3 linked regions of the Homo sapiens genome follow. The main gene of each other region encodes a partner of the protein of the gene in region 3 in a complex. Each region holds a gene or a part of one and is shown on either strand. Other genes may lie near its edges.

Region 1 (7,275 bases), on a different chromosome or scaffold from region 3:
CCGGCCACCACCCCGTCTGGGAGGTGTGCCCAACAGCTCATTGAGAACGGGCCAGGATGACAATGGCGGCTTTGTGGAATAGAAAGGCAGGAAAGGTGGGGAAAAGATTGAGAAATCGGATGGTTGCCCTGTCTGTGTAGAAGGAGGTAGACATGGGAGACTTTTCATTTTGTTCTGTACTAAGAAAAATTCTTCTGCCTTGGGATCCTGTTGATCTGTGACCTTACCTCCAACCCTGTGCTCTCTGAAACGTGTGCTGTGTCCACTCAGGGTTGAATGGATTAAGGGCGGTGCAAGATGTGCTTTGTTAAACAGATGCTTGAAGGCAGCATGCTCGTTAAGAGTCATCACCACTCCCTAATCTCAGGTACCCAGGGACACAGACGCTGCGGAAGGCCGCAGGGTCCTCTGCCTAGGAAAACCAGAGACCTTTGTTCACTTGTTTATCTGCTGACCTTCCCTCCACTGTTGTCCTATGACCCTGCCAAGTCCCCCTCTGTGAGAAACACCCAAGAATTATCAATAAAAAATAAATAAATAAATAAATAAATAAATAAAAAAGATTTCTTTGGGGGGTGCTGGGAATGTTCTGGAACTCAATAGTGGTAACTGCACAAGTCTGTAAATATACTAATTTTGAATCATTAAAACTAAAATTCATTAACAATCATTGAATTATACACATGAAAACAAGCGAACTTTATGGATTGCGATTTTTTTTTTTTTTTTTTTGAGGCAGAGTTTCGCTCTTGTTGCCCAGGCTGGAGTGCAATGGCGCGATCTCAGCTCACTGCAACCTCTGCCTCCAGATGCAAGCGATTCTTACATCTCAGCCTCCCAAGTAGCTGGGATTACAGGCATGCACCACCATGCCCCGCCAATTTTTGTATTTTTAGTAGAGACAGAGTTTCACCATGTTGCTTCGTCTGGTCTCGAACTCCTGACCTCAGGTGATCCGCCCGCCTCGACTTCCCAATGTGCTGGGATTACAGGCATGAGCCAGCATGGTGGCCATGGAGTGCAACTTTTATCTCAATAATGCTGTTTTGAAAATAGTACAGAGAGTTCTTGTGTACCCTTCACGTAGCTTGAGAACTTTTTATTTTATTTTATTTTTGAGCGAGAGTCTCACTCGGTCACCCAAGCTGGAGTGCAATAGCATGATCTCAGCTCACTACAACCTCCACCTCCGGGTGCAAGCGATTCTTATGCCTCAGCCTCCCAAGTAACTAGGATTACAGGCATGTGCCACCATGCCCCACTAATTTTTGTATTTTAGTAGAGACAGGTTTTCACCATGTTGGCTAGGCTGGTCTCGAATTCCTGACCTCAAATGATCCACCTGCCTCAGCCTCCCAAAGTGCTGGGATTACAGGCGTGAGCCACCACACCTGCCCCCTGCCCACCCCCCAGAACTTGTTTTTTTTTTTTTTTTTGGAGACGGAGTCTTGCTCTGTCACCCAGGCTGGAGTGCAGTGGCCCGATCTTGGCTTACTGCAACCTCTGCCTACCGGGTTCACACCATTCTCCTGCCTCAGCCTCCCGAGTAGCTGGGACTACAGGCGCCTGCCACCATGCCCGGCTAATTTTTTTGTATTTTTAGTAGAGATGGGGTTTCACCGTGTTAGCCAGGATGGTCTCGATCTCCTGACCTCGTGATCCACCCTCCTCAGCCTCCCAAAGTGCTGGGATTACAGGCGTGAACCACCGCGCCCGGCCACCCCCCAGAACTTCTTATACAACCATAGAGCGACAATCAAACCAGGAAATTGACATTGGTACAATACTCTTTTTTTCTTTTTTGAGACGGAGTCTTGCTCTTTTGCCCAGGCTGGAGTGCAGTGACTATCTCAGCTCACTACAACCTCTACCTCCTGGGTTCAAGCGATTCTCCTTCCTTAGCCTCTCAAGTAGCTCGAAGCACAGGTGCGTGCCACCATGCCCGGCTAATTTTTTTGTATTTTTAGTAGAGACAGGGTTTCACCGTGTTAGCCAGGATGGTCTCGATCTCCTGACCTTGTGATCCGCCAGCCTCGGCCTCCCAAAGTGCTGGGATTACAGGCGTGAACCACCGCGCCCGGCCACAATACTCTTAATGAAACTACAGACCATAGTAGGATTTCACCAGGGCTTAGAGCAATGTCTGGCACGTAGTGAACCTTACACAGGTGAAAGGACTTCACTACCATGACGATGATGATGATGAAGATGATAATGATGATGTTGGACTTTCTAGCACAGCCAGATTGATATGGTGCCTATTTTCAGAGCATGCCATGTTAGTTTCTATATCTAAACCTTTTTTGGCCTGGCACGGTGGCTCACGCCTGAAATCCCAGCAATTTGCGAGGCTGAGGTAGGCAGATTACTTGAGCTCAGTAGTTCGAGACCAGCCTGACAAACATGGAGAAACGCCATCTCTACGAAAAATACAAAATTAGCCGGGTGTGGTGGCACATGCCTGTAACCCCAGCTACTCAGGAGGCTGAGGCAGGAGAATCGCTTGAATCCTGGAGGCAGAGGTTGCAGTGAGCCGAGATTGTGACACTGCACTCCAGCCTGGCAACAGAGTGAGACTCTGCCTCAAAAAACAAAAAACAAACCAAAACCCCCACTTTTTTTCTATGAAACCAGCCTCGCTCTGTCACCCAGGCTGGAGTGCAGTGGTGCCATCATGATCCTCCCACCTCAGCCTCCCGAGTAGCTGGGACTACAGGCATGTACCACTATGCCTGGTTAATATTTTTATTATTTGTAGAGATGAGGGTCTCAGTATGTTGCCCAGGCTAGTCTTAAACTCATGAGTTTAACCAATCCTCTCGCCGCTGCCTCCCAACGTGCTAGGATTACAGGTATGAGTCACGGTGCCCGGCTTCTTTCTTAACTCTTTCTAGTAGTTCTACCACTTGGGATTACCTTTTTCCTTCCTCTCCATTTACCTTTATGAAATCCTCACATCCATCCATCTCCATCAAATCTTTAACAATTCTCCTCTGTCTTTTTTGACTGTAGGGACCTTTAGAACACCCAGCATTAAAAAATAGATTTCAGGCCGGGCATGGGGGCTCACGCCTGTAATCCCAGCACTTTGGGAGGGCCGAGGCAGGAGGATTTCGTAAGGTCAGGAGTTTGAGACCAGCCTGGCCAACATAGTGAAACCCTGTCTCTACTAAAAATCCAAAACTTAGCCGGCAGTAGTGGCGCGTGCCTGTAATCCAGCTACTCTGGAGACTGAGGCAGGAGAATTGCTTGATCCTGGGAGGTGGAGGTTGTGATGAATTGAGATCGCGCCATTGCACTCCAGTCTGGGCAACAGAGTGAGACCCTGTCTCAAAAAAACAAAAGGAATATTTTTTAAATTTTTACCGTTCTGAAAGCACATTGACATCCTTTGAATTTTTTTCTAATTATTTCACTTTGATTTGTAAATTCTCAACTAGATTCAGGGGCTGTATGGGTTACAATTCCTCTGCACCCTCCACAGAATTTCAGACTTTTTTTTTTCCCCCGAGACAGAGTCTCGCTCTGTCACCCAGGCTGGAGTGCAGTGGCGCGATCTTGGCTCACTGCAACCTCCCCCTCCCGGGTCAAGCGATTCTCCTGCCTCAGCCTCCCGAGTAGCTGGGACTACAGGCGCCCGCCACCACGCCCGGCTAATGTTTGTATTTTTAGTAGAGACGGGGTTTCACCATGTTGGCCAGGCTGGCCTCGAACTTCTGGCTTTAAGTGATCCGCCTGCCTCGGCCTCCCAAAGTGCTGCGATTCCAGGCGTGAGCCACCGCGCCCGGCCAAGGTCTTAATTCTTGCCTGCCTTTCTGCTCCCCTGTGAACTCTACTGGTTGTCTTTTTTCCTGCTTTATCCCTCGTCCTCGGTAGACAGTGATGGTTAAATGAATGAATGCATGAACAAATGACTGTCCAGGAGCTAGTACTGCATTGCATGTACACATTGATGACAACAGACATCGTACAATGCGCAATCTTGGCAAATTTATTCAAACCCTTTAGACTTCGCTCTCTCACAGTGCGACGCCGGGAGCCCATCACACGCTGAGGTCTGTCAGAGGCCCCAGAAACAGCCTCGGAAATGGAGGAGGCGGGGCTTCACCCCGACCACACCCCCTTGCGTTCAAAGCCTTTCCGCCTATGGGCCCGCCTCCTCGGCGCAGTGTGCAACTCTAATTGGTCGTCTCACTAATCCATCTGAGCACCTCGGCGCCGACTGGATCAACTGCTGAACTCGGGTTGCGCACTTCCCGGCGCTGGGAACGCGGAGCGGACGCAGTCTGGCCGCCATTGCGCTGCGGGGAAAGCGGCCTCTTGTGTGAGGGCCTGTGGGGTGCGTGGCAGGCGTTTAAGGCCGGGCTGCGGGAGGCGTGGTCGGGTCGGGCCGAGTGACCGAAGGGGTTAGGCCGGGCGGGGCTGGATGCACTGTGTGGCGGGACTGCAGGCCGGGGTCCCCGGACGCCTTTCTGCTGCGCTTCTTGTGGGCCCGGGCCTGTGGTTAGTGAATTTTTCTATCCCGCCGCTCCCCAGATTCTCCGGATATGGCCGGAGTGTTTCCTTATCGAGGGCCGGGTAACCCGGTGCCTGGCCCTCTAGCCCCGCTACCGGACTACATGTCGGAGGAGAAGCTGCAGGAGAAAGGTGAGGCGAGAGTGTGGAGCGGCGCGCGGGCCGGAGGCGGGGCGGGTGTGCGCGCGCGCAGGCGGGTGGGGACCCTCCCCGTTTGGGCAGCTCCTGAGGTGTCAGCTCCCTTGTTATTTCCAGTTAATTTTTCATCAAGTCATTTTAAGCGCGTATTATTTGCAAGCGCTGATCCAGCGGGGGTACAGTAGTGACGGAGACAAAATTCCTGTCCTTACGGGGTTTAAATTACAGCGGGAGAGACAGAGAATAACAAAACCTTGAAGCTCTGTAATAAAAATGTCAGGCCGGGCGCGGTGGCTCACGGTTGTAATCCCAGCACTTTGGGAGGCCCAGGCGGGCGGATCACCTGAGGTCAGGAGTTCGAGACCAGCCTGGCCAACACAGTGAAACCTCGTCTCTACGAAAAATACAAAAATGAGTCGTGTGTGGTGGCGCGTGTCTATAATCCCAGCTACTGGGGAGGCTGAGGCAGGAGAATGGCTTGAACCCAGGAGGCGGAGGTTGCAGTGAGCCGACATCGCACCATTGCACTCCAGCCTGGGAGACAGAGTGAAACAACCTCTCAAAAAAAAAAAAAAAAGTCAGATAGTGATCAATGTGATGAAAGGAAAAACAGAGTAAAATGGTAAGGGAATTGGCAAGGGGTGCTTCTTCCTGCTGGTGCCTGCTTCTCCCTCACACTCACTGACAGGAGCTTACCCTAGGGCAAGAGGTGAAGAGGATTAGGGGGAGGGTGTGCAGGCCTTTAAACTGAGGTGCCTTTCCAGCTCGAAAATGGCAGCAATTGCAGGCCAAGCGCTATGCAGAAAAGCGGAAGTTTGGGTTTGTGGATGCCCAGAAGGAAGACATGCCCCCAGAACATGTCAGGAAGATCATTCGAGACCATGGAGACATGACCAACAGGAAGTTCCGCCATGACAAAAGGGTTTACTTGGGGTAAGGAACATCCTGAAATAATTTCATTTGGAATTTGGCCCTTTTCCCTTCTCCCTGTCCCACAGTCTTGGATTGATGCTTTGACAGCTCATCTTGGTGGATATAAGAGAAAGGAGAAAACCAGTAGGAGTCTCTGATAATTTCTACATCTTCCACTTTTGCAGTCTGTTTCCCCTCTCTTCCCGATCTGGGACTGGTGCTTTAATTTGTCCTGTTGATGATATTATAAGATGTCCCTGGCCAGGCGCGGTGGCTCATGCCTGTAATCCCAGCACTTTGGGAGGCCGAGGCGGGTGGATCATGAGGTCAGGAGATCGAGACCATCCTGGCTAACACGGTGAAACCCCGTCTCTACTAAAAATACACAAAATTAGCTGGGCGTGGTGGCAGGTGTCTGTAGTCCCAGCTACTTGGGAGGCTGAGGCAGGAGAATGGCGTGAACCTGGGAGGCGGAACTTGTAGTGAGCCGAGATCACACCACTGCACTCTGGCCTGGGCGAAAGTACGAGACTCCGTCTCAAAAAAAAAAAAAAAATGAAAAATAAGATGTCCCTATGGTTGAGCTGGTTGAAGTCCAGAGTGGGATACTGTGCATAGTGGCAGCCTGTCGCTCCTCAGGGACCTGAATTCTGTGTTTGGGGTATTTAATTTCAGAGGTTTCCCTACTCCTGTTTTTTCTGTGGCTCTAAACTGGGCTAGTACAGGTACAGATGTCTTAGCAGATTCCTGTTCTATTTGGACACAAAAATGTTTGCCATGTAATGAACTGGAAGTTTTGTTTATTTCAAAAAATACTTAGAGAACTGTGCTGGCTGCTGGGGATATAGTAGCGAGCAGAGGGTAACAATCTCCGCCTTTCTGCAGTGTGCGGTCTAGTGGCCTGACAGACATGAGACAACTGGTGATAGTGAAGTATGGTGAATACTTTATTATGATTTATGGGAAGATGCGGAGGGAATAGGATGTGAGAGAGCCGCAAAGCTGTCTCCAGAGGGATAGCCGTTGATTTAGAGGAGCTGATACCAGCATTGTGGGATTATGACGTTTAAGAAGAGTGGTGCAAGGTGAAGTTGGAGAGGGAGAGGCAGGGTTTCTGGTTAGGAAGGGCCTGTGGGCTAAGTTTGGGAGTTTGGATTGTAAGGTAGGACTGTGGAACATGAACATGTGGCTTCTCTGCATGGGACAGGTAGCAGAACACCTCGTCATTTCTGATAGCCTTCTCTTTTTCTAATGTGCCAGTGCCCTAAAGTACATGCCCCACGCAGTCCTCAAACTCCTGGAGAACATGCCTATGCCTTGGGAGCAGATTCGGGATGTGCCTGTGCTGTACCACATCACTGGAGCCATTTCCTTCGTCAATGAGATTCCCTGGGTCATTGAACCTGTCTACATCTCCCAGTGGGGGTGAGAAAGGCTGAAATATGGTGGGTGGTGGTGGTGGTGGTGGTTGGGAGGCAGTGGGTAGAAATGGTTGTGTGATGTCTTGCCTTCCAGGTCAATGTGGATTATGATGCGCCGAGAAAAAAGAGATAGGAGGCATTTCAAGAGGATGCGTTTTCCCCCTTTTGATGATGAGGAGCCGCCCTTGGACTATGCTGACAACATCCTAGATGTTGAGCCACTGGAGGCCATTCAGCTAGAGCTGGACCCTGAGGAGGACGCCCCTGTGTTGGACTGGTTCTATGACCA
Region 2 (7,024 bases), on a different chromosome or scaffold from region 3:
TGGACCCCACATGCCCCATCTCTAACCATCAATCAAGTGCCGCTGTGGCGGAGAGGATTCAGGCGACTGCAGATATCCATCCCTGTCCCCCACCCCACACACAAGGAGAACATCCCAGGCGAGGACATTGTAAATGCAAAATCTATACGATGGCAAGTAACTCTGAAGACTCAAGAAAAAGAGTTCCTCACGGACGGGACCTTTTATTCCAATCACCTCTCAAAATAGGTCTCCGAACGAGGACCCTGAAGAGAAGGCTATGCAGGGGGACGGGCCGCTGCCTGGCTCAGGGCTTCCCTCTGGTTTCTTCACGGTCCACAGATGCTACCCGGAGCCTTTCTCGAAAGCGCTGACTCAGTGTCTCAGGTGCGCGCCCGAGGAGTGGCAAACCCGGCCTGGCTCAGAAAGGGGGCAGGAGCCTCGTGAGAATCTTCCATGAGCATCTTCCGAGGGGATTCCTGTCCTGTCTTCTCTGTGTGAACGCCAGTGTGGACAGATGAGGATAGATGATGGAGTCCAGGCCACCCAGGAGGGGGTGATGGGGACCATGCGTGGCCCCTGCCTGGGACTTCCCTCCCCACACACCCCTTGGCATTAACGTCTCCACAGAGGGGAGAGGGTTATAGGACAACCTGGTGTGGGGGGCGCCGGGGACTCTCAAGAGCCCCCACTGTCCAGATGCTGGTCTTGCCTTTTGTAAAAGGACATCAGTGCCTCACTGTGCCGCTGACACCTGGTGAGAACTCTCAAAAGGAAGCTTCCCTTACGGGAACGGGGATTTCCTGAGAGTCCAGCGATGGACAGAGGGCAGGAGACCCGCTAGGTGCACCCAGAAGCTCAAAAGGAACAGTGGATGTGCAGTGTGTAGTTTTATTTGTTTTTATTTCCATAACACAAGAGAGGAAGCGAAGGGCCAGGGCCCGAGGCATCCCCTGCACGGTTCGAAGGCTTTCAACCGTCCCGGGTTTGTTTTGAAGGCAATTTTGGGGCCGCGCCCAAGGAAACCCTGCAGGCTGTCAGTCCCAGCATGAACAGCTTAAAATAAAAATCTCCCGTCTGGTTGCTGCTCGGAGAGGCTCCAAGAAATGCAAAACAAACCCGCCTGGAAAATGCTGCCCTGAGAACCAGAGCGAGGGCTTGAAAGATGCCTTCAACACAGACTCTTCTAGGAATCCAGCCAGTTTTGGGACGGCCGTTTCACAAAACCAAAAAACACCAAGTAACATTTCTAACCGGAGAATTGCCGGTTTTAGCAAGAAAAAGGGGCTTCACCTAAAAGGGAGGGTCACAAAACACGAAGGGGGTTCCCCCTGGCGCCTGCCTCTTCCTTTCTGAGCAGATCCGTCCGAGACTGTGGAGCGGAATCGCCACCCTGGCAGGAGGGGGCGCAGCAGCCGGTCTGGGTGGGCGCTCACTGTTTGCCCGCCTGTCTGCCAGGCTTCTTCTCTGGCTGGCCTCTGCCTGTGCCCGGGATCCCACCTCGGCCCCGGCCACCAAACACACCTAGAGGACAGAGAGAGGGCGCTGCAGCAGAGCCAGGTGGGTGGGACCTTCGACAGGATCCCGGCGCCCTGAAACTCTAGGCCAGGTCACCTAAGTCTCCAGCCTCAGCTTCCTCATGTGTGAGGTGGTGACTGAGGGTGCTTGGATCTCCTCCGTGGGGCAGAGCATCTGAGGAAGGCAGGAACTCCAGGGCATCCTCATTATGGGACTAGACCCAGCCCCCAGGGATGCGGGGGGGGGGGACTAGGCGACAGAGGACACTAAGTCACATTGGGGGTTGGGGCAGGCTTCCTAAAGGACAAAGCCAGAAGGGTTTCCTGGAGGAGGAGGAGGAGGTAGGAGAGGCGTGGAGCAGAGACCAGGGCAGTAGGCCAGGCTGGGGGCTCCCTGGCGGGGGGGGGGCCTCCTATGCGCCACAACCACCCACAGCCCCTCATCTACCTGCCAGGAGGAAAACAGAAAGAGGGATTTCTGTGTATCCAGCCCCAGGGATGGGGAAGGGGAGGGGACTCCCCAGCAGGCCTGAGGCCAGAGATAGACCATGAGGACAAATGACATTTTCCATGAAGCCCCTGAGGTGGGAGCATGTGGCCACTGGGGAGGTGACAGGGGGTTCCCGGGAGATGAGGGCCCCAGGGACTGAGTGGACGCTACAGCGGCACCTCCAGTAATCCTGAGCAGGCTGCACGCAGGGCACGCCTGTCCCCACACCCTCTGTGTGCCTGGCGCCCCTTCACGCCACCCTCACCACAGGCCAGGCCTGGACGCAGCAGGTTGGTCAGGCCGGGACCCAACATTGATCCCTCCCTCTCTGTCTCCCTTGGGGACCCCAGCTCTGTAAGCCCCGTTTAGGGAGCCGTTTCAGAGAACTTTCTAGCTGGACGAACGCTTGAGGAAATCAAAGCTGGAGCTTCAAACAGCAGGAGAGCCAAGGCCAGCAAGAGGAGCTGGCCCTGTGGCCCATGTGCTGGGTGCCAGGGGCCAGAGGCCAGCGCTGCAGGCAGCATAGCTCAGGCCCTCCACAGAGCCCGCTGGGAGGCTCAGTCGTGGGCCAGGGAGGTCTGGGGACAGGAGGACTGACCCCAACAGGAACTGGAATCACGGTCTACTCTGCAGACCTCAACCCCGTGAAGGTGGGGTCAGGGGTCCAGATTCAGAGGATCTAAGAGGTCAGGGCTCTCACCAGCCAGGGGCCACCAGGCCCTGTGGGGACAGAGGCCAGAGGCCAACGCTGGCCTGGGCCACCAACCTCCCCTCTCACCAGGCAGGACCAGCTGTGCTAGGGTGCACAGCCTGGTGGGGGTTACTGCGAGGCTGCTATCTGCACTCCATGGCCCAGTGGCTTCCTGCAGAGCAGCCAGAGAAAACCCCCCACTTCCCTAGGTAGGACCCGACCCACTCTCTCAACAACCTTGACCCCAACTACTGGGAAGGAGCCAGGCCGGGGACCCCAGAGGCCCCACCCACCCTGAGATCCCCAAAGCTCCCTGCCTGGAGTACTATCCCTGCCCCTCCCTCGGGCTCACTCCTGACCACCTCGTGAGCCTGCACAGAATTGGCGCCTGGGGCCTTCCGGGGGCAGCCATGCCGTGCTGCAAGCCCCCAGGCTGGCACCTGAGCCCAGCACACAGGCAGTGCCCATGGATGGCAGAAGCAAAGCCCAGGTCCCCCCGAGAACACAGAGCTGGGGACAGAGAGGTGAGGAAGGGCAGGGGCTACAGATGGCCCCTGGGCCTAACAAATGGAATTTTATGCCAATTCATCATCTCCGGTGGGGGCGGGCGACCTTGGCTCTGGATAGAGCCACGCCAGGTTCCAAGTGGAGTTGCCAGCGGCCTGGACAGATGGGCACCACCATACCCTCTCAGAGGGGAAACTGAGGCTTGGGGAGGTGACTTGATGTGCCCTGAGGACCGCCAGGAGGCGCAGTGAGAGGAGGGCTGAGTCCCAGGTCTCGGGGCTCCTCTGCCTGGGCCTCGGCTCATGGCCAAGGACCAGGAGGGGGGCCCGGGAGGGTTGGGAGGCTCCGAGGCAGCGCTGCAAGGGCAACCCCAAGAAGGAGGGATGCCACGTGTGGCTGTCTTCCCGCCCCAGGTACGTCCACTGGAGAGGGGAGACCCACCTCGGCCAGCGCCGCCCATGCCGCGGCCTTTCTGCTGCTTCTGCTGCTGCAGGCCTCCGCGGCCGCGGCCCTTGGCCACCACCTCCTCCTTGACCATGTCGATGATCTCGTCGGGGATGCGCAGGTACTTGATGGTGCTGCCGCGGATGTAGCACTCGGGCATCCGCCAGAACTTGTCCCCGTCCTGCGGAGAAGGGGAGCAGGTTATTAACTTACCACCGGGCCGTCTGGCCCAGCCCTGGGAGCGCGGGAGGCCCTGCAGATCCTGCCCAGCCTGCACCCCGTACCACCCCTGCAAGCTGCACAGTATCAGTCCCGGGACATACGTGGCAAAGGGTCCACCCTGCAGGCAGGATCTGTCCTGACCCCAGGCAATCCTTCACCCAGGAGCAAGGGTGGGTGTGGTAGGCGCAGCCCCCATTGTGCACTCACAAGGAAGACTGGCTCCTATCCTCTGCCCGTGGGCCTGGCTCAGGAGTGGCTGACTGGGGCTCCCTCCAGCCTGGGATGGGGCTCTCTCTGGTTGGGGTTCTTCACCTGCAGCCCAAAGCCCAGAGCGGGTGGGGGCCTCCCTGTGCACCAGACACAGCCGAAGCCCAGCTACTCCTCCTCCTGCCCCAGCCCCACCTCACTTCTGGAAGCCTCTCTACATGCCCTGACTCATTCATTCATCTAAGTATCTCCTGACAGGGCCTGCGCTGGGTGCAGGGACATGCGAGCAAGCTACAGGCCTAGTGTGGTGGGTGAAGAGGGGCGGGAAATGGGGGGACTTGGGTCCTGCCAGGGTGGCTCAAGGGCGGCTCCCAGCGATGCCAGTTTTAGGAGAGCTAACCAAGACTGGAGAAATGGGGGCCTTGCAAAGACACAGACTCATGCTGCAATGCCTCCGAGGCCCCCACTGGGACAGATCGAGGGATTAGCAGGGGCCAGGGCCATTCCTACCATATCAGTTTCCCAGCCCCGCCCCACCGCCCAGGTTCCTGGACAGACCCACGCACGACGCCTGGATGGCCTTTGCCCCCGATGCCCTTTAAAGTCAGATCACAGTATGTTCCAGCTTGGAACCCACCCAGGGCCCCCTCCAGCCTGGGGGCAAGGTCTAAGAACCTCAGCAGGGCTCTCTAGGGCCCGAGATCCTGCCCCGCCCTGGCGGTCCTCTCCCAGCCCGACGACACTCCCTCCAGATGGAACTTTCTGTTTCCGGAACACACGCCATGGGCTTGCCCCCAGAACTTTGCACGTGGTTTTCCCACTTCTCATCTGGCTAACTTTGACCCCAAAAGGCCTTACCTGCCCGAATCCCCAAGTCCTCCTGTCAGACACTCTCCTCCACACCTGGGTAGGTGTGGCCTGGCCTAGCGCTGGGCGGGGAGGAACAGCCCCTTTGGGTGCTCACTCTCCCAGGAACCCCTCGAGGGCTCGTGGGGCGGACACACCATGGTTCTGTGGGGACTCAGGGCCTGGGCAGGTGACTTGGCGCCCAGCTCTCCCAGGCAGGGCCCAGAGGCTTCCTCGTGCAGGAACCTGGGCAGGGCCTGAGCTCACTGCAGGGAGGCCCCTGCCTCCTGCCCACAGCGCTCCAGAGGTCTCTCAGCCCGGGGTCTCTGCATCCTGCGGCCTGCCTCTGAGGGAGGGAGGGCCCCACTTAGATGGGGACGATGTGAGTTCCCATCGCCTCTCCTCCCAGCCACATGTGACGGCAGCATCACCGCCTGGCCACAGAGGCAGGCTGCTCAGGGAAAGCCATCCGTCCACTCGAAGCTGGAGGCAGAGGCCAAACCAACCCCTGGAGACCACGCAGCCTCTGAATCAACAGGCTTCTCATGTCTAGGACCTGGAGGTGTCCACAAGACCGCACATGCTCACGCACGCAACACGCCTGGTGATTCCAATACCGGAAGTGGACAGAGCCCCGCTGGCCGCAGATGGGAGGCACGCGGTTCTGCACCAAGGCACCATCCGACACAGCCAGACTGGACCCACCCAGACGCCCTCCGACAGGCTATGGCACGAAACCCAGCAAGCAGTTTCTAGAGCTTCTAGCGCTGCTGCACAGCAGCCTCACCACCTGTCCCCACCCCGCCCAGCCCTGTGCTGATGAGAGGCCCAGTCCCGGGTGGGGGTGGCGGTCAGGGCAAGATACGGCCACTTCAGGAAGAAGCGCCTCCCCCCTCGAGCCCTGTTGTCCTGTCAAGGTGACCCCAGGCAGGCACTCCAAGCTCCCCAGCAGTTTCCTCCCTATACCATGGGGGGCTGTCACCCACAGGGAGACAAGACAGATGGGGTCAGGGAAGGTTGGTGGGAGGAGTCCAAGGGAGCCGCTGCCTTCAGCACCATCCCTGGCCTCCTCCTCAGTGCTCTGTGGGTCATCCCAGGGGCAGGGAAGGCCCGTGACACCAGGGGAACCATCTTCCAGCCCCGGCCGACCCAGCAGCACTCCTAGCCAGGCACTTCCGGTCTTGGGCTCTGGCTGGTGGCTCCTGACCCACCGGGCCCTGGCGCTGCTCCTGCCCACCGTGACCTGGGCATCCCGGACATCCCAGGGCCACACTACCATGGCCCGCAGAGTGCAGGCAACATCCAGGCTGGACTAAAGGCAGCAGAGTCCGGGAGTCTTGGGCCTCCCCTGGAGGGGGCTGCCCCAGCCTGAGCCACAGGGAGTCCCCAGTCCTAGGTCCTTCCAGGTCAGGGGTGGCACCAACAGACACACAGCAGGAAAGTCTCCCACAGGGTCAAAGTCCAGGGCACACTGGGAGACTTGGTGGCCTAGCTCACCCTGCCCTGTCCCTCCTGACTGACCCCTGGAAGGACGAGCAGTCCTAGGCGGCCTCCCCCACTGACTCCTCCCATGAGGCCCAGGGAGGGAGGGAGGAGGCTGAGTGTGCACCCCCTGCATCCCACCCCCGTTGGTGGGTGCAGCACCCACCCTGGACGTGCAGATGACTTCTCGCAGGTTAATGTTCATCCAGTTGTCGCAGCTCACCAGGTGTCCATTGTACGTCTCCCCATTTTTCAGCTCCACCAACTAGAAGAGAGACAGGCTAGAGGTTGGCTGTAGCCCTGGAGCCCTGCGCCATGGGCCCCTCAGGAGGTGTAGCTCTGCCCTGAGATGGACCACCACCTCCGGGCCTCAGCCCACAGTTCCCAGACCCCTAAATGGCCTTCCTTACAGGCGACAGGCTCTGCCTCCGCTAGACACTTCGCTGGCAGTTAGACAGTCTATCATGACGCCAACCTTTGTGCAATTAAAAAATGATACTGGGCCGGGCGCGGTGGCTCACGCCTGTAATCCCAGCACTTTGGGAGGCCGAGGCAGGCAGATCACGAGGTCAAAAGATTGAGACCATCCTGACCAACATGGTGAAACCCCATCTCTACTAAAATCATAAAAATTAGCTG
Region 3 (7,024 bases):
ACACCACAGGCTCCAGTAGAGCAGGAAAGCAAGCAGAGATTTCTAAATACAGAGCTCAATTGTAAGAGTTCACTGTACCTTAATTCTCACTATCATCATTTGCTCTGTCAAAAATAGAACCTTCCATGTCTTGATCCATTCAGAATAAGCCACAGCAGGCACAGCTCTGCTTCCACAGGGCAGCCAGGTCAGAAAGGCCACACAGGGAAATGGAAAAGGCAGCCAGCAGGTTTTCTTAGAGATTATACTCCTCTGGGCTTTTATCCTTCTTCCCAGCTATTCTGGTGCCAAGAAAGCTGCAGGGAGGTCTTTGCTCTGCTCTGAAAAAGCTTCAATTCAATCTTCTCACCAGCAGGGCTGAAGCAGTCTCAGGGCTGTAACTCCCTCTGCTGCCCAATGTTTTCTTTGCATGTTGTGATCAGTTTAATTAATTTCAAACTCAAATGTTAAAAGAACTAATGCAGCCCTTTATTTCAAAACATAATCAAAAGAGCATGAGTTCAGACAGGAGGAATATAGATGGAATGCATGGTTCAAAGCTGGATACACTTCTGCATTCACCTACAAATCTCCTCTATCTCGGAAAGGATTTCTTTTATTCAGTTTCATGAAAAGTCTCCTTCACAGGCATGTAGAAAAGCAGGAGCCAGACTTCTTGGTCCTTCCTCACCCGTCCTTAATAACAACATGGCCTTTAGCAGAACTTAAGGCAGGCCTTATTCATCTTTCAAGATCCAATTTAAATAGCACTTAGAATGAGGCATTAAAACCACCTGCTTACCTGTCTGTTTCACTGTATTGATTCAACAGTGTCTAGCTAACAGCAGATGCTCACTATCTAACAGGATTCTAACTAGAACCATGTGCGATACTGGGGGAAGGGAAACCTGTCCATATAAGAATTCAACCAGCAATCACTGGGGGAAGAACCAAAATTCTTAAGAGATAAGAATAAGAGACAGGTGTATTTCTCCAACATACCATTATTCTGCCTAACAATTTGCCTACCAGCTATGCTTGTGGTCCTTTTCAGATTACCAATCTCAGTCTCTTTCCTGTAAACTCTTAACTGATTTTTAATGTACTTGAAAGGCACTTCATTCTTTCCCTATATCCAAATACTTCTCACATTCTGATCTTAGCGATAAAATTCACAAAGACCTCACAGTGACTCAATGAGAGTGTTGAGCAATACTGACCCCATTAAATAATGTACCCAACATATTTAGGTTAGAAACTCTGGTATTCCAGCATCCAGAACTACAAGTGATGAAGACTTTTGTTAGTGCAATAACTCTTATTTATTTTTCTGAACCCTCCCCTTCTCCACCTCCCAATACTGGAAGCTTACCCATCAGGCAGAATTCCTAATCTGCCTCAAAATCTACAGGTCCAAGCTCTGCGAATACCAAGTGCTCAAGGCAACTGCGACCCTTCAGAAAACTAAATACCAGCAACGAATGGTGTTACTGTGTAAAAAGTTTCTACTGCTGAATAGTAAGAAGCAATGTAAATTTTTTAATACAAACAATCCCATAGTATTTATTGCCATCTTGTAGTAACACGAGGGTAATCAAAACAATATGAATAAATGTTCACATTGGACAAAGGACATCTAAAAACAAACTGTATCCTTCTCAACAATTTCTCACTTCATTGATCATTTCTAGTTGGAGACACTTTGTAGCAGAGTAATATTATCTCCTTTTAGCATGATCCGACCTGCAACACAAAAACAACAAAAAGCTATTAATAGCCACACACTCAGATGTTTTACTCTCAGAATTTTGTATCCAGTTTTTGAACAATATTTTGAAAATGCTTTCTTATAAAAATATGTGAACATTTTCAAGTGTCCATATAGTGAAAGGCTTTCTGGCTCCATTAGAATACATTTATCTTTTCAAGAGACTAACATAGGTAGATGACATTTCATGACAAATATCATTTCTATGGACTAAGTCAACTCAATAGGCCTCATACAACATTTCCCAATGCTGAATTTGTAATAAAAGTTTGGAAATGAGTCGTATGTCAAGTTTGGGAAATACAGCATATTATAACTCCATTCTTAAAGCTGTTAGTATATTAAAGACTCCACCCTATCTCTACTAAAAATACAAAATTAGCAGAGCCTGGTGGCGCGTGCCTGTAATCCCAGCTACTTGGGAGGCTGAGGCAGGAGAATTGCTTGAATCCGGGAGGCGGAGGTTGCAGTGAGCCAAGATGGCACCATTGCACTCCAGCCTGGGCAACAAGAGCAAAATTCATCTCCAAAAAAAAAAAAAAAAAAAAAAAAAAAAAAAAAAGACTCCATCCTACAATAAACAAACCTGTTTTACCCAAAATTTCCTAAGGTTATTTAAGACAATACTTTTCTGAGAAATTTATAAACATCTTCAGGAACACTGGTGTTCACTGGTAGAACGGTTTGAGACACGTTGATCAACTCCAACAGTAATTAAACTGTTCTACTTTCCCAGGCTTCTGCAGGTATTAATAACATTCTATTCTACAGGATAAATACTACCATGGGAATTCAACAGTTGGTAAATAATTTATGAATAATATGACCTCAGTAAGGCTAAGCTTGCCCGTCCTGGCAAGACATCTTTAAATCTAAAAAACCCGGCTGGGTATGGTGGCTCACACCTATAATCCCAGCACTTTGGGAGGCCAAGGTGGGTGGAATGCCTGAGCTTAGGATTCGAGACCAGCCTGGACAACACGGTGACACCCCGTCTTCTACTAAAATACAAAAAATTAGCCAGGTGTGGTGGCATGCCCTGTAATCCCAGTTACTTGGGAGGCTGAGGCAGGAGAATCGCTTGAACCCAGGAGGTGGAGGTTGCAGTGAGCTGAGATTGTGCCATGGCACTCAAGCCTGGGAGACAGAGTGAGACTCCGTCTCCAAAAAAATAAATAAATAAATAACAATAAATCTAAAAAACCCAGGCTTTCATAAAAATAGTCTAAGCAGGAAGCAGCCAGCGAAACACCATACTGCTTCTCAGAATCTACTTTCCATATATCTAGTTCAGGTTGAAGAGAATCCTGAGGGTCTGAAAGAGAGACACCTGAAACCCACCACTGATAAAAGTATTAGTGAGCATTTAACAAATAAAGACAAAATGCCTAAATAAACCTCAAGTGAATGGGATGTTAACAGAAATGATTCAGTGTGTCTTGATGAAACCGTGAATCCTAAGACCATTCATTAACTGGGTTAAGAAATACCATTCATTGCCAGGCTTAGTGGCTCACACATGTAATCCCAGCATTTGGGAGGCCGAGGCAGGTGGATTGCCTGAGCTCAGAAGTTAGAGACCAGCCTGGGCAACACAGTGAAACCCCGTCTCTACTAAAACACAAAAAATCAGCCAGGCGTGGTGGTACACGCCTGTAGTCCCAGCTACTTGGGAGTCTAAGGCAGGAGAATTGCTTGAACCTGGGAGGCAGAGGTTGCAGTGAGCCAAAATCACGTCATTACACTCCAGCCTGAGCGACAGAGACTCTGTCTCCAAAAACAAAAGAAAGAAATACCATTCATTGTTCAAATATTTTTTAGTTTCTATTATGTGCCAGGCATTGAGTTAGGTACTGAGCACACTGGGATCAAAAAAGGCATGACTCATACACTTACGGTGAAGCATCTGATAACAGGAGAGACACTAATAAAATAATTTCAATAATAAAGGTTTTACTACAAACTCAGGGAGCACATAATCCCGCCTTCCCCCATCCCCAGCAAAACCAAATTAAACTTTGAACTTTTTAGAGCAGGGCTTCCTAACCCCTGGGCCACAGACCAGTACCAGTCCTGGTCCCTGTTAGAAACTGGGTCACACAGCAAGAGGTGAGCAGTGGGCGAGGTGGCGGAGCTTCATCTGTATTTACAGCCACTCCCCATCACTAGTATTCCCGCCTGGGCTCTGCCTCCTGTCATATCAGTGGAAGCCTTAGATTCTCATAGGAGCGCAAAACCTATTGTGAACCGGGCAAAGAGGGATCTAGGTTGCGCACTCCTTATGAGAACCTAATGCCTGATGATCTGTCACTGTCTCCCATCACCCCCAGATGGGACTGTCTAGTTGTGGGAAAACAGGCTCAGGGCTCCCACTGATTCTACATGATGGTGAGTTGTATAATTATTTCATTATATATTACAATGTAATAATAATAAAGTGCACTATAAATGTAATGTGCCTGAATCATCCGAAAGCCATCCCCCACACCCCAGTCCACAGAAAAATTGTCTTCCACAAAACCGGTCCCTGGTGCCAAAATGGTTGGGGACCACTGTTTTTTTTTTTTTTTTTGAGACAGAGTCTCGCTGTGTCGCCCAGGCTGGAGCGCAGTGGCGTGATCTCAGCTCACTGCAAGCTCCGCCTCCCAGGTTCGCGCCATTCTCCTGCCTCAGCCTCCCGAGTAGCTGGAACTACAGGCACCCGCCACCATGCCCAGCTAATTTTTTTTTTTTTTTTTTTTTTTCAGGAAAGACAGGGTTTCACCATGTTAGCCAGGATGGTCTTGAATTCCTGACCTCGTAATCCACCCGCCTCGGCCTCCCAAAGTGCTGGGATTACAGGTGTGAGCCACTGCACCTGGCCTAGGGGACCGCTGTCTTAAAAGAAGTGATATTTGATCTGAGCTCTACAGACACAAGGAATATCATATACAAAGATTAATGGTTGGGCAAATCTGCAGATTCAAAGAACTGAAATAAGACAAGTGTTGCTAAAGCTCAGAAAGTGAGGCAGTGATACGAGATGAGCAGAGGGAGATAAGACTAGATCATGAAGATCATTAGATTTGCAGAATCATTAGATTTTTTTTTATCCTAACAGCAACAGGAAGTCATTGCAGTATTTCAAGCAAAGGGATGACATATGTTCAGACTGGTGTTTTTAAAAGATGAGTGAGGCCTGGAAAGCAAACTGGAGGTAGCTGCAGAGAAATCAATTAGTAAGCTGAACTGGAAACTGGTGCCATTCAATAAGGCAGGAAATAATAATACAATAGCTCTAAACAGTGTGAGTTGGAATTGAGTTTGCTTTCTGATATGCTGACTTTAAGAAGCCTTTGAAACATTCAAGTAGAAATGGTGAATAGGCCCAGACAAACAAATTTGGGAGTCAGTATTTATAGATGGTAACTGAAGCTGTACTCCAGTGCCTAGGCAGACAATACTGAATGACAGGAGGGCCTAGAACCAAGCCTGGAGCAACTCATTTAGTGATTGGGTCCCAAGAATGAATATATAAGTCTGAAAAATAGCCAGAAGTGAAAAATAAAAACCCAAGTATAATATCGTAGAGCCAAGGTGTGATACTGCAAAATATTTACTTGGTCTTCAATCCCATACAACTCCTAAAATCCTTAGAATCTCTAAGATGTTGCCTTTTTGTATGCTAATGATTGACTGATGGCCAGCAGCCCCTACAACGTTTCAGCATGGGAGCTGCTCACTGAAAGGACCAAGGCATTAGTGATGTCGGACTTTCAGCCCCACCCTCCCACCCGGGGAGGAGGAAAGGAGCTGAAGGTTAAGCTGATCACCAACGGCCAATTTAATCAGTCATGCCTACATAATGAAGCTTACATAAAAACTGAAAACAATGGGGTTCTGATAGCTCAACATGTGGAGGTTCCCAGAGTGGTGAGCTTGCAGAGGGCACAAAAGCTTCGCATCCCTTCCTATATGCCTTGCCCTACGCATCTCTTCATCTGTACTTTTTGTAATATCCTTTATAACAGACCAGTAAATACAAGTGTTTCCCCGAGTTCTGTGAGCTGCTCTAGCAAATTAATCAAACCAACGGAGGGGTCATGGGACCCAGTTTATAGCCAGTCAGTAAGAAGCACAGGTAAAACAATCTGGAGCTGACAATTAGCATCTGGTGGAGGACTGAGGGGCATGGAAGGCAATCTTGGGGATTGAGCCCTCAACCTCTGGGAACTGACGCTATCTCAGGTAGATAGTGTTAGAACTGAACTGAACTTGACGACTCTGAGCTGATGTCCACTGCCGAACTGATTGCTTGCTTGGTGTGTGGGGAAATATGCCCATACATCTGGTCACAGAAGTCTTCTGTGTTAATTATTGTCAACTGAGGAAACAGAAAAATCTACTTGGGTTTTTCCTGCCACTCAGACACGGGAACAAAGCGCTTTAAGGAGGGAGCAGCCAACAGTGCCAAATGCTGTTGAGAGTTTAATAAAATGAGGATTAGTACTGATCATTAGATTTAATACCACTAGTCTTTGGTTCCCTTGGTGAGAGCTCTCTGGGTGGAGAAGCCAAAATGGAGTGTGGTGAGGAGTGAGTAGTAGAGGATGATTTCAAAAGTGTACTACTACTCTGAATAATAACTTCTCAAATGCAAAATAAATTCAAACATGAACTGAGTTGCAGGTCACTGAATTCTGCAAGTGAATAAAATATTTCTAGAATTCTGTAAGACCACTTCTATCCTTACCCAGTTGTTTTCTTGACTTTGTTTTAGAATGAATCTCTTCTGCATCATCTAATACAAGGTTCATATACTCATCAAAACCCTAGAAAAATAAACAAACTGTTATCTTCAAAGAAAATCACATTCAAACCATTTTAAATGAGTATACCTATGCAGATAAAAACTCCAACTAACTTCAAAGATTCACTCTTCTCAAGCCCCACCCCACCTTCCACCCAAAGTTTTTTTTTTTTTTTTTTTTTTTTTGAGAAAGGATCTCACTTTGTCTTCCAGGCTAGAGTGCAGTGGTGCAACCTCGGCTTACTGCAGCTGGACCTCCTGGGTTCAAGCAATTCTTCTGCCTCAGCTCCCCCCAAGTAGCTGGAACTACAGGGCGCACCACCATGCCTGGCTACTTTTTGTATTTTTGGTAGAAACAGGGTTTCATCATGTTGCCCAGGCTGGTCTCGAACTCTGGAGCTAAAGTGATTCATCATGCTCGGCCTCCCTAAGTGCTAGGATTACAGGCGTGAGCCACCTTGCCCAGCAAAATATTTAAAAATTAGCTG

The links. The genes of interacting proteins can lie anywhere in the genome.
Region 1: SNRPE (region 3) and PRPF8 share a complex: the UniProt entries of both Homo sapiens proteins name them as parts of the U4/U6-U5 tri-snRNP complex.
Region 2: SNRPE (region 3) and LSM4 share a complex: the UniProt entries of both Homo sapiens proteins name them as parts of the U4/U6-U5 tri-snRNP complex.

The regions. Positions count from the first base shown.
Region 1 is NC_000017.11:1,681,844-1,689,118, reverse strand, and holds the start of PRPF8 (pre-mRNA-processing-splicing factor 8), read left to right. Parts: upstream 1-4,251; 5' UTR 4,252-4,339; intron 4,340-4,536; 5' UTR 4,537-4,547; coding exon 4,548-4,647; intron 4,648-5,417; coding exon 5,418-5,586; intron 5,587-6,825; coding exon 6,826-6,990; intron 6,991-7,080; coding exon 7,081-7,275. UniProt on the Homo sapiens protein: Plays a role in pre-mRNA splicing as core component of precatalytic, catalytic and postcatalytic spliceosomal complexes, both of the predominant U2-type spliceosome and the minor U12-type spliceosome.
Region 2 is NC_000019.10:18,306,053-18,313,076, forward strand, and holds the end of LSM4 (U6 snRNA-associated Sm-like protein LSm4), read right to left. Parts: intron 6,651-7,024; coding exon 6,552-6,650; intron 3,810-6,551; coding exon 3,626-3,809; intron 1,504-3,625; coding exon 1,412-1,503; 3' UTR 184-1,411; downstream 1-183. UniProt on the Homo sapiens protein: Plays a role in pre-mRNA splicing as component of the U4/U6-U5 tri-snRNP complex that is involved in spliceosome assembly, and as component of the precatalytic spliceosome (spliceosome B complex).
Region 3 is NC_000001.11:203,864,575-203,871,598, reverse strand, and holds the end of SNRPE (small nuclear ribonucleoprotein E), read right to left. Parts: intron 6,559-7,024; coding exon 6,480-6,558; intron 1,723-6,479; coding exon 1,667-1,722; 3' UTR 447-1,666; downstream 1-446. UniProt on the Homo sapiens protein: Plays a role in pre-mRNA splicing as a core component of the spliceosomal U1, U2, U4 and U5 small nuclear ribonucleoproteins (snRNPs), the building blocks of the spliceosome.